Regions from separate parts of the Homo sapiens genome. Here region 2 is reported to be linked to region 1. The links are microRNA targets in miRTarBase. Many come from high-throughput screens and were not tested one by one. Region 1 holds a microRNA gene; the other region holds the end of a gene's coding sequence.
What was found. The annotated mature microRNA hsa-miR-6124 reads GGGAAAAGGAAGGGGGAGGA and lies in region 1 at 2,811-2,830, shown strand. An mRNA with a match to its seed (bases 2 to 7 or 8) in the 3' UTR can be bound and repressed. Matches are read on the target gene's strand: a 7mer-m8 pairs with bases 2 to 8, a 7mer-A1 pairs with bases 2 to 7 and ends in A, and an 8mer does both.

Region 2: the mRNA of CEP20 is a reported target of hsa-miR-6124. Seed matches in the 3' UTR shown: 7mer-A1 at 3,142-3,148 and 7mer-A1 at 2,872-2,878.

The regions. Positions count from the first base shown.
Region 1 is chr11:12,160,882-12,166,257 of GRCh38, forward strand. It overlaps MIR6124 (microRNA 6124), which reads left to right and starts at 2,802; the gene lies at 2,802-2,886. It overlaps MICAL2 (microtubule associated monooxygenase, calponin and LIM domain containing 2), which reads left to right. Exons shown (of 28, transcript NM_001282663.2): 3 at 1,198-1,538. The coding sequence starts at 1,275. RefSeq lists an enhancer at 2,543-3,042.
Region 2 is chr16:15,863,189-15,868,536 of GRCh38, forward strand. It overlaps CEP20 (centrosomal protein 20), which reads right to left. Exons shown (of 5, transcript NM_144600.4): 5 at 2,531-4,328. The coding sequence ends at 4,252. Among named protein-coding and RNA genes, the nearest start is that of MYH11, 8.8 kb to the left of the region's middle.

The sequences.
Region 1 (5,376 bases):
AAGGAGGAAGATAAACACCATTCTCTGCTTTTAGTATTATAAAACCGTCCCACAATTCCAACTTGTCCACGATGAACACTGCCCCTCTGGGGAGCACAGAGCTGCCGTGAGGCCTGCGCTCTGTGTGCTGCTGACCTCCTCTTACCAGGCCTCATCGGTGGAGCTCGGTCTGCTGTGCCCTCTTGCTCAGAGACCCCTCCAGCCCTCCTGACAGCTGGGTCAGCCCCAGCTCCTCCACATTTGTTTTCTTGTGCCAGCTTTGGATTCTGGAAAAACAGCTAGTGCTTTGGAAAATCAGCTCTACTTTATTTTTGTTCCTTTGAAACTTAAATGACTTTCCTAAGAAATGTCTGAGGTTAGAATGGTGCAGAAAGGACCATGGCCAAAGCCCAGGCAAGCTATTTTTGGGATGTGAATGAGCACCCATCGCATTTTTCCCTTCCATGAGCCGGAGCACTTGTTCCAAATAGCTCACAGCCTGGAATTACAAAGCACAGGCCCCCTTTGCACAGGCGGAGGAGGTCCACGTGTCTCTGTCTGTCTGTCTGTGAGTCTGACTGAGGTAGATGGTGTGCTTCCAGCTGATACCAGGAGCAGAAGTTTTGAGAAGAGACTGTTTGTCATGTGGATAGTGGAAAGCCCTGCTCTCTGGTAACGAATGAAGAAAGGCTTTAAAGCTGGGTGTCTACGGAGAGGTGGGCAGTCATGAAATCTAGAGAGATGTTCTCTGGAGTTTTTTCTGTCTGTGCCTTAGTGTAATGTGGCTGGGTTATATTCACATCAGCCAACCAATTTGCAGCACCGAGAATGATAGACTTTCAATGGTGCTATATATAGTGTACTTTTCTGGGTTGTTTTCCCTTTTCCTAGTCACTATTTGCAGAACCACTTGGCTTAGAGCAAGATTGACTAGGTACTGTTGGCATTAGCCAGGGCATAGCCCTGTGCAATCTGTGGTACTTTTCAGCCAGCAAGAGGAGCAGAGCATAGGGGAAGAGATTACCTGCAATGCCACATCGACAGGCCAAAAGGCACAATTCTGTATCTGTTATAAATATTTATGTTTAGTATTGAACACTAAATAGTGTGGTTAATATTTGAATGTCTTAAAGAAATTGCATTTTTACTTCTCAGCACCCATCCCCCACCCTAACCTCATCGTCCAAAGCTGACCTCTGCCTCCCCCTACTTTCACAGGTGTGACGTTTCTCCAGATACTTCATGCTGTTCACCTGTGTCCTCGCCGCACCACTGCCGCACACGACTCCTGAACCATGGGGGAAAACGAGGATGAGAAGCAGGCCCAGGCGGGGCAGGTTTTTGAGAACTTTGTCCAGGCATCCACGTGCAAAGGTACCCTCCAGGCCTTCAACATTCTCACACGACACCTGGACCTAGACCCTCTGGACCACAGAAACTTTTATTCCAAGCTCAAGTCCAAGGTGACCACCTGGAAAGCCAAAGCCCTGTGGTACAAATTGGATAAGCGTGGTTCCCACAAAGAGTATAAGCGAGGGAAGTCGTGCACGAACACCAAGGTAAGGGGAAACCCTCCTAGTCTTACCTTTGCAGGGCGTGTGGGTTGACATTTGGGAGGTTAGGAAGCTGTTGCCATTTTGGCACTCTACGGTTCTTAGGTGTGGGTGTGAATGTTGCATTGTTTTCCTCCGGTAAAGGTTTCCTTTGTCTCTAAGCATCAGCTTTTCCTGGCTGGGAGGTTCCCTCCACTCGTGCCCTCTCCAAGGGAGGGAAGCCAGAGGCAAAGTTGAGGGAGAGAAGCCCATGCTTGATATTACCCCCACTTCTATTATCCCTGCTGCCACTACTACTACTTCTAGTAGCTGCTATTTGTTGAGCAGCTTCTAGGTACAAGGTACTTTATGTCCATGATTTCAATGAACAGCTACAGCAGTCCTTCAGGCCATTTTAGAGATGGGGAAATTGAGAAGTCAGTTGTGCCCAAGGTCACACAACTAGAGGGCAACCTTAGTCCATCTGATTCTAGGGCCTAAGACCTAAATCTCAGGGAGAGGCATAGTTACAGAGTTGTGTTCGCCTGGGTGTGGACATTTTAGAAAGATCCCCTGGTTTTGGATTAATTGGCTAAGAAATAGGTCTAGGTCCTTACTGCCTCTTCCTCCCTGTCTCTTTCTCTTCCTCCTGATACCCCTGCATTCTCCACCTGCCCACTCCCTTCCTCAGGATGCATTTCTCTACCTAGGACCACACTCATAGTTAAGCCTACACGAACTGGTTGCATCCCCCATCATTTGGCCATAGACAGCATCGGCGAACATAGGCTCACTATCGCAACCTTTCTCTGACATTTCTGAAATGCCCAGCACCAGATGGGCAGGTGGGAGTCCAGGCGTCTCAGCTGACTTCCCTGGTGGCCGTTGGGGACTACCAGCCCTGAGCACTGGTGCAGGCTGTGTGTTTAGGTTAAAATCGAATGTGCTGTATTTAGACCTCACAGGAGGTAGCTCAGCTAGAACCCTAGGAATTCCAGCCGGTGCCAATCCCGGGACAAGAGGATTGAACTCTCCATGGCAGTCGGGACTGTTGTGTTTTTGTTTTGGTGGTGAGAAGCTGTCGAGTCCACCATGGGATATGCTGCTTTCCACTGCCCCTGGGGAGACAGCTGCCAAGCTCCTGTGAGCCTGGGGCACACTGACACTGCGGGACGTAGGAAAAGCATTCCATCAGGTTGAAACAGACCAGTCGCCTCAGCCCAGAGCAGACTAGCTATCCAGGCAGTGCCTGTTTATAACCTACCATGCTCCAGCTAGGCAGAGGAGATGGGGGAGGTAGGGAAAAGGAAGGGGGAGGAGAAGGTGAGACCAATGTCCTGGGTGCCACTCCTGCCCAGTGCCTCCCTTCCTCGTTGTTGTGACTTCATGGTTCAGAGTTCACGGGGTGGCTCTTCAGAGTTAAAGGAGGGGAAGCTTTTAGCTTCCAAAGTGTCATCCCTCTTAGTAATTGTATATGGTGGCTTCTTTTTTTTAAAGGTCCCATAAAAGTCAGGTGGCCCAGTTGCACTGTGTTCTCTCACAGAGGGTTTTCAGAGCTCTGGTTTTTATTAGGGAATGCTATTGCCCCATACACCCAACATGTTGTGGCTGCTGAGGGACCCTCTTGGTGATCTGAAGACAGATTGTCACAGGGAGTCAGCCAGCAGAGGGATGGAACGGAGGGCTGACCACCAAGAAGAGACCCTTCTTCCAAAACATACTAGCCAGTTGCCTAGCTGGTGTGGCCAGCCTCTATTTTACAAGCTTTGGTAGCTTGAAATAGAACAGTCATCACATCTTGTGGTTGGCAGGTCACCACTGGCTTCTGTGATGCAAAGGGAAAGAAAGCTCCTTTTGTTAGGGATGCTGGGTAAGGTGCCTCTTGCCCAGGAATTTTTATGCCTGTCTTGTGAGGAAGAACAAAGACATTTCACATGTGAGATAACCCATCTCGTAAAAACCGCCTGAATGCTGAGGACTGGAAGATACATTTGAGAATGCATTGTAAGTATGAACTGTGACTGTGTTAGGCTACTTGAGCTGTGCTTTTCAGAAACCCAGCTCAAAATAACCACAAAGAACAGGAAAATCATTGACTCATATTAACAGGAAGGTCCAGACACTTTAAGTCCTGACCTTAACTTGGGTGCTTTGATGCTTTGCTCTCTATTGGCTCCATGCTTCCCTCCTGCAAACACATTTTTCTCCATGTTCGAAGCCTCTCATTCACATCTTTATAGCTCCATTCCAAAAGGCTGGAATCTGTCTCTTCCAGGTCAATATTGAAAAAAACCTCAGAGAAGGATTCTAATTGGCCCACTTCTGGATTTATTATGGCCAAAGCCAGAGGAACTGGCTACTGTGATTGGCAGCCCTTTCAAGCATCACATGATTGATGTGAGGGAGGAGCAAATCCCCAAGGATGTGGGAGTGTGAGACAGATAATCAACAGGTGTCCTTGGCTGGGCGTCGCGGCTCACGCCTGTAATCCCAGCACTTTGGGAAGCCAAGGCAGGTGGATCACTTGAGGTCAGGAGTTCGAGATCAGCCTGGCCAACATGGTGAAACCCCATCTCTACTAAAAAATACAAAAAAAATTAGCCAGGTGTGGTGGCAAGTGCCTGTAGTCCCAGCTACTCAGGAGGCTGAGGCAGGAGAATCACTTGAACCCAGGAGGCATAGGTTGCAGTGAGCTGAGATCACACCGCTGCACTCCAGCCTGGGTGACAGAGCGAGACTCCATCTCAAAAAAAAAAAAAAAAAGAAAAGAAAGAAAGAAAGAAATAAAAAAATCACACAAAAAATGGGTGTCATCTACAGTGAGTGTTGATTTGTATTCTGGCCATGATACAGGCCCCTGGCATATCACATTCATGTGTGGGTGGTTAATGGCCAGCTCCATGAGGCCGGTGCTTGTACTCCTTGTTGTGAGTCAAAACACAGAACAGGGGTCCTCACCTCTTCCAACATGAACAGACACTGTCTTGCTCACATACCATGTTCAGGCATCCTTTGGTGTCATGGTTTATGCTGAGCATTAGTCAAGGAAGAAATGCTGGGCATTTGCATACATGTGGCTGATCATTAATGCTAAGCCAGATGACACAGGTTTGTCAGGTACCAGGCATAAAGCCAAGCTCCTGGTTAGCCATAGGCAGAGCAAGAATAAATGTAATTCAGCCAGAACCCCGACCTTTGTGCTAAAGTGGATGCATCTCAGCACCACCTGGAGTGGGTCTGGGCTTTAGCATTTCACAAGCATTTATCAGCCGCTGCCATATGCTGAGCACCATGCTCCTGCCTCCGTGCCACCATATGTGCGTGTATACACACGTGCGTGTGACAGTGGTGAGAGATTGGGGACCAGGATCTATTTGGAGAAGAAGGACGGGCTCTAATGGAGGTGTCAGGGGACAAGCAGAGTGGCCTGAGAGCTCTCTAGAGCAGTGGCTCAGGTGCCAGTTCCAAAATCTCACTTGGGATTATTGTTTATTATTGATGATTATTTATGAGGGTATTATTGGCACTGAATATTAATAATTCTTTCCCTGGGCGTGACTGTGTTTGGATAAGAATGAGGGTGAACTGAGGATCATGCCAAATGAACTCTTTCAGGATTGATAACTGGCTCTGTATTAGGGTAACACCTGACTCGAATGTTACACCCGACTGAGTAGTGTTACGGAGGAAAACGACCCAGAAGAACCTGCAATATGTAATTTGGTGTGGGAAATGCTATAATCACAAAATTTTGGACTCTGGTTATCTTTATATATAAATCTTTAATGCTAGAAGGAACTTAAGCAGATGTTATGTGCAATCTCTGCATTTAACAGGCCACAAACTGAGGTCCAGAAAGCTGAAG
Region 2 (5,348 bases), not on the chromosome of region 1:
AGGAGGCTGAAGCAGGAGAATCGCTTGAATCAGGGAGATGGAGTTTGCTGTGAGCCGAGATCGTACCACTGCACTCCAGCCTGGGTGACAGAGCGAGACTCTGTCTAAAAAAAAAAAAAGGCAGGAAGAAAACTTAAATGCTTGTTACTAAATGAAAGATGCTAATCTGAAAAGGCCACGTACTGTACGATTCCAACTATACAACATTCTGGAAGAGACAGGAATAGGTGGAGTAGAGAAGATTTTCTAGGGCAGTGACACTCCTCTGCATGATACTAAAATGGTGAATACATGTCACTAGACATCTGTCCAAAACCATGGAATGTGCAGGCAGTCCCCAACTTATAATGGTTAAACTTAACGATTTTTCAACTTTATGAAGGTGGGAAAATGGTGCATTCAGTGAAACCGTACTTTGAATACCGACAAAACCATGTTTTTTCACTTTCAATACAGTATTCAATAAATTACATGAGATGGTCAACACTTTATTATAAAATAGGATTTGTGTTTGATAATTTTGCCCAATGGTAGGCTAATCTAAGTGACCTGAACATGTTAAGTAGGCTAGGCTAAGCTAAGATGCTCGGTAGGTGAGGTGTATTAAATACATTTTGGGCTGGGCATGGTGGCTCACATCTGTAATCCCAGTACTTTGTGAGGCTAAGATGGGCAGATCACTTGGATTCAGGAGTTCGAGACCAGCCTGGGCAACATAGTGAGATCCTGTCTCTACAAAAAATACAAAAATTCACCAGGTGTGGTGGCATGTGCCTATAGTCCCAGCTATTCAGGAGACTGAGGCAAAGGACCACTTGAGCCTTGGAGGCGGAGGTTGCAGTGAGCCCAGATCGCACAACTGCACTGCAGCCTGGGTGCTAGAGTGAGACCCTATCCAATAAATAAATAAATGCATTTTGACTTATTTTCAACTTGTGATAGTTTTGAGATGTAATCCCATGAGTCAAAGAGCATCTGTACAATACCAAGAGTGAACCCTAATGTAACTATGGACTTTTTGTGATAATAATGTGTCAAAATAGATCCACCCATTGGAATACATGTGCCACTCGATGCCGGATCTTGACAGTGGGAGAAGCTAGACATGCATGGGTGCAGGGGGCAGTCAGGAGCTCTGTGCTTCCAGTCCATTTAGCCATGAACCTAAAACTGCTCTAAAAAACGAGTCTACTTTTATAAAAGTAGTTTTGTTTTGTTTTTTTTTTCCAGAGAATAGTCTCACTCTGTCGCCCAGGCTGGAGTGCAATGGCGTGATCTCAGCGCACTGCAACCTCCGCCTCCTGGGTTCAAGCGATTCTCCTGCCTCAGCCTCCCCAGTAGCTGGGATTACAGGCACATGCCACCACGCCTGGCTAATTTTGTATTTTTTGTAGAAATAGGGTTTTGCGATGTTTGCCAGGCTGCTCTCGAACTCCTGACCTCAGGTGATACGCCCGCCTTGGCCTCCCAAAGTGCCGGGATTACAGGCGTGAGCCACCATGCCCAGCCTAAAGGTAGCTTTTTTTTTTTTATTTTTTATTTTTTGAGACGGAATTTCACTCGTTGCCCAGGCTGGAGTGCGATGGCTCGATCTTAGCTCACTGCAACCCCCACCTCCACAGTTCAAGTGATTCTCCTGTCTCAGCCTCCTGAGTAACTGGGATTACAGGCGCATGCCACCGCGCCTAATTTTTTAATTTTTAGTAGAGATGGGGTTTCATCATATTGGTCAGGCTGGTCTCAAACTCCTGACCTCAGGTGATCCACCCGCTTCGGCCTCCCAAAGTGCTGGGATTACAGGCCTGAGTCACCAAGCCTGGCCAGCAGTTTTATTTCACTTTTATTTTAATAAGATTCCTGAACACCACACAATCCTCGAATCGTGGTTGTTACCAAAAAATCAAGTACCAAGTGGCCGGGAAGCATTGTCCCAAATGCCTTTAAAGGCATATTCTCACAAATGTTCATCTTTCATGTACACTTGGCTTTAAAAGAACACATCAAATTTTACATCAACATAAAGGTATGTGAGTGATACACAAATGTGTTCTTGCACATCATTATAAGGCTATTAGTTTGTTCTGTGCAAGCATATACACTAAGCTTAAATTTATCTTCTTCAAAAGCCACCTCTGCTCCTGCTATGAGGTTTTAGATCACCCAAGTTGTACATTTCCTAAATCCCTCTTCAGTTCCCATTCCCATCCTGTTTTTGTGTAAATCCAAGTTTTCTCCTAAAACTTCTGGAGCATCTCTAGAAGATAAGTTCTCCCGACAATTCCAAGAAACCCACGAGTAAGGTACTTAAATATAACACATTTATGAGAAGGGTTGGCTTGTCCTCTGTGCTTTTCCTTCCTTCCTATAAACATGTGCAGACGGCAGGAAAGTACCCCCGCCTCCACCCCTCAACAGCGAAGCTTCTGAAGATCCCGACGGAAGGCATGGCAGCCATCTCCAATCATTCTTCTGTTTTTGATGTGTGGCTTTTGATGAGAGAACAGTGATATGAACACCCTTTGCACCAAAGTGACTTGCTTATTTTTTTTATTAAATGATACATTGAAAGTATAAAAAGTTGCCGCAGTACAAACAAATTACAGAATAATGCATATAAAAGCGCTATGGACTACACGTGACAATTCTGCTTAACTTCCATCTTGATGATTTTATATCAGTATCCAAAATTATATACTCCAGCATTTTTTCCGAATATAGTCTTACATGATTGCAATTCCTGAGGTAAACTAAGTGTCCACTGCCAACATCCTTGGACGAAAACCAAGTCCCCCGGGAGAATTCAGATATTTATATTCACACATACAATACAACGGAATTCATCAATGTAATCAGATATTGCAGATTTAAAAATGGAAAATGGACTCTTGCAATACTTCTGCATCCATATATAATTTTACCAGCAGGGCCTCCCAAAATGTTGTGTAAGTATAGTTTAAATGGATTTCATTAATAAGTTTCTGCATTTAGATAAAAATTCTTGGCTAATCTGTAAGAAGTGAACACTGACTAGCATTGCCAAACAGAAAATCAAAAGTTTCAACAATTTGCAAAGCAGCACAGAATTGACACCCTAAAGAGGATGCCAATTTTGCTAACTACAGCTCTTACCACTCTTCTCCATGGAAAACCTTTAAGCTAAATGTTGTCAGTGTTTAGGTGTGCAGGCAAAATTTAATTCTGAATATACCATCGAACTTTTGCCAATCAGGAGCTGTCTATCATCATAGTCAGTTGTTTTCAATGAAATGAGCCTGTGGACACTACATTAAAAATACTTCTTTAATAAATATCGAAGTAGCGTATTAGAGATAGCACATACTATTTTTCTATCCCAAGAATAAAAATTGATGTTTGGTAAGAGTTTCGGAGCCCAAACAAGTAGGGGGCTGGCCCTCTTCTGGCTCATCTGTGATTGCACAACCGAGGGCCACACGGAGATTAAACAATGCCATCTTTGAAAAATCCCTTTCTGGTATTTCTCCCAAAGCCTGTCTCTTCATGCTTACTTCACATTCTTTATCTAATAAAATAAACTCTTTGTTTTATTTACAGCAAAATTATTACAGCAAATTTACTTCTCCTCTACCTTTTAATTAAATCTTCCAGTAAGCCAAAGTCTAAGGAAAGAAAAAGTACATTGTTGCCTATTGAAAAGGTAATACAAAGCCCTTTCATTTCCTTACAAACTTTAAGGGCCTTTATAATACTTCCTAAATGGCTGGGCTCAGTGGCTCACACCTGTAATCCCAGCGCTTTGGGAGGCTGGGGCACACAGATCACCTGAGGTCAGGAGTTCAAGACCAGCCTGGCCAGCATGGTGAAACCCCATCTCTACTAAAAATACAAAAACTACTCCGGTGTGGTGGCACAGGCCTGTTTTCCCAGCTACTTGGGAGGCTGAGGCAGGAGAATCACTTGAATCCGGGAGGCAGAGATTGCAGTGAGCCGAGATCGTGCCACTGCACTCCAGTCTGGGTGACAGAGCGAGACTCCATCTCAAAAAAACAAAAAATACTTCGTAAAAACAATACTTTTTTTTTCAAGTCAAATCCAATAAGCTAGATGACAAGAGTTAGCTTTTATTCACAAATGTAGTTAAACATGAGGGGTGTTTTGTAGAAACTCCAATTTCTACAAACATTAGTGGTGCATTTTGGTAACATTGGGACAATAAATAAGTTATTTAATTAATAATACAATTTTAAGACAAAAGATACCCCAAACAAAGCATTATCTGTTGACTGCCTGAGAAACATGAAGATCTTCAATGTTAGTACTTTTCTGTTCCTCCTTTCTTAGGTGGTCATCTGAAATGCACAGAAACCAATGTTAATACTTATCCCAAGTCAAAACACACAGATAGGTAGACATAGCTACAAATATCTTAGGATGTTACATATTTAATATTCTATGAGTACTTTAGATGGTTTAGGACAATGAAAAAAACCCATTATTTTTTAAACACTATTGAAGAAATCAGAGGCCAAGCGTGGTGGCTCACGCCTGTAATCCCAGTACTTTGGGAGGCCGAGGTGGGTGGATCACCTGAGGTCAAGAGTTATAGACTAGTCTGGCCAACATGGTGAAACCCCGTGTCTCCTCAAAATACAAAAATTACCCGGGCGTGGTGGCAGGCGCCTGTAATCCCAGCTACTCGGGAGGCTGAGGCAGGAGAATTGCTTGAACCTGGGAGGCAGAAGTTGCAGTGAGCCAAGATCGTGCCATTTCACTCCAGCCTGGGCAACAAGAGTGAAACTCGGTCTCAAAAAAAAAAAAAAAAAAAAGAAAGAAATCAGAAATGTCTGGCATTAGGGACTCTAATTATTCAAAAGAGTTTCTTGACTTTTTTTTTGAGTAGAGTACAACCTGCAGTAAACCCATGCATAAGTAGTTACAAACCTCTCTCTTACATGTAAGGAATGAAATTTGCAAGAAAGGACAAGGTGTTCAATCAGCATTTTGAGGGTTGCCAAAGCTCTTCAATTACAACACAATGAAAACCACTTCAAATAGATCACCTGAGGTCAGGAGATAGAGACCCTGTCTCTACTAAAAATATAAAAATTAGCCAGGCGTGGTGGCGGGCACCTACAATCCCAGCTACTTGGGAGGCTGAGGGCAGGAGAATCGCTTGAACTCAGAAGTGGAGGTTGCAGTGAGCCGAGATCGTGCCACTGCACTCCAGCCTGGGCGACAGAGCAAGACTCTTGTCTCGAGAAGAAAAAAAAAGAACCTAGAGACTTAATATCCTAATGCAACAAAAATGTAATGCAAAAACTAGATTCTTGAGAATATATGAACCCCAAACACTTTCTACAACTGATAAA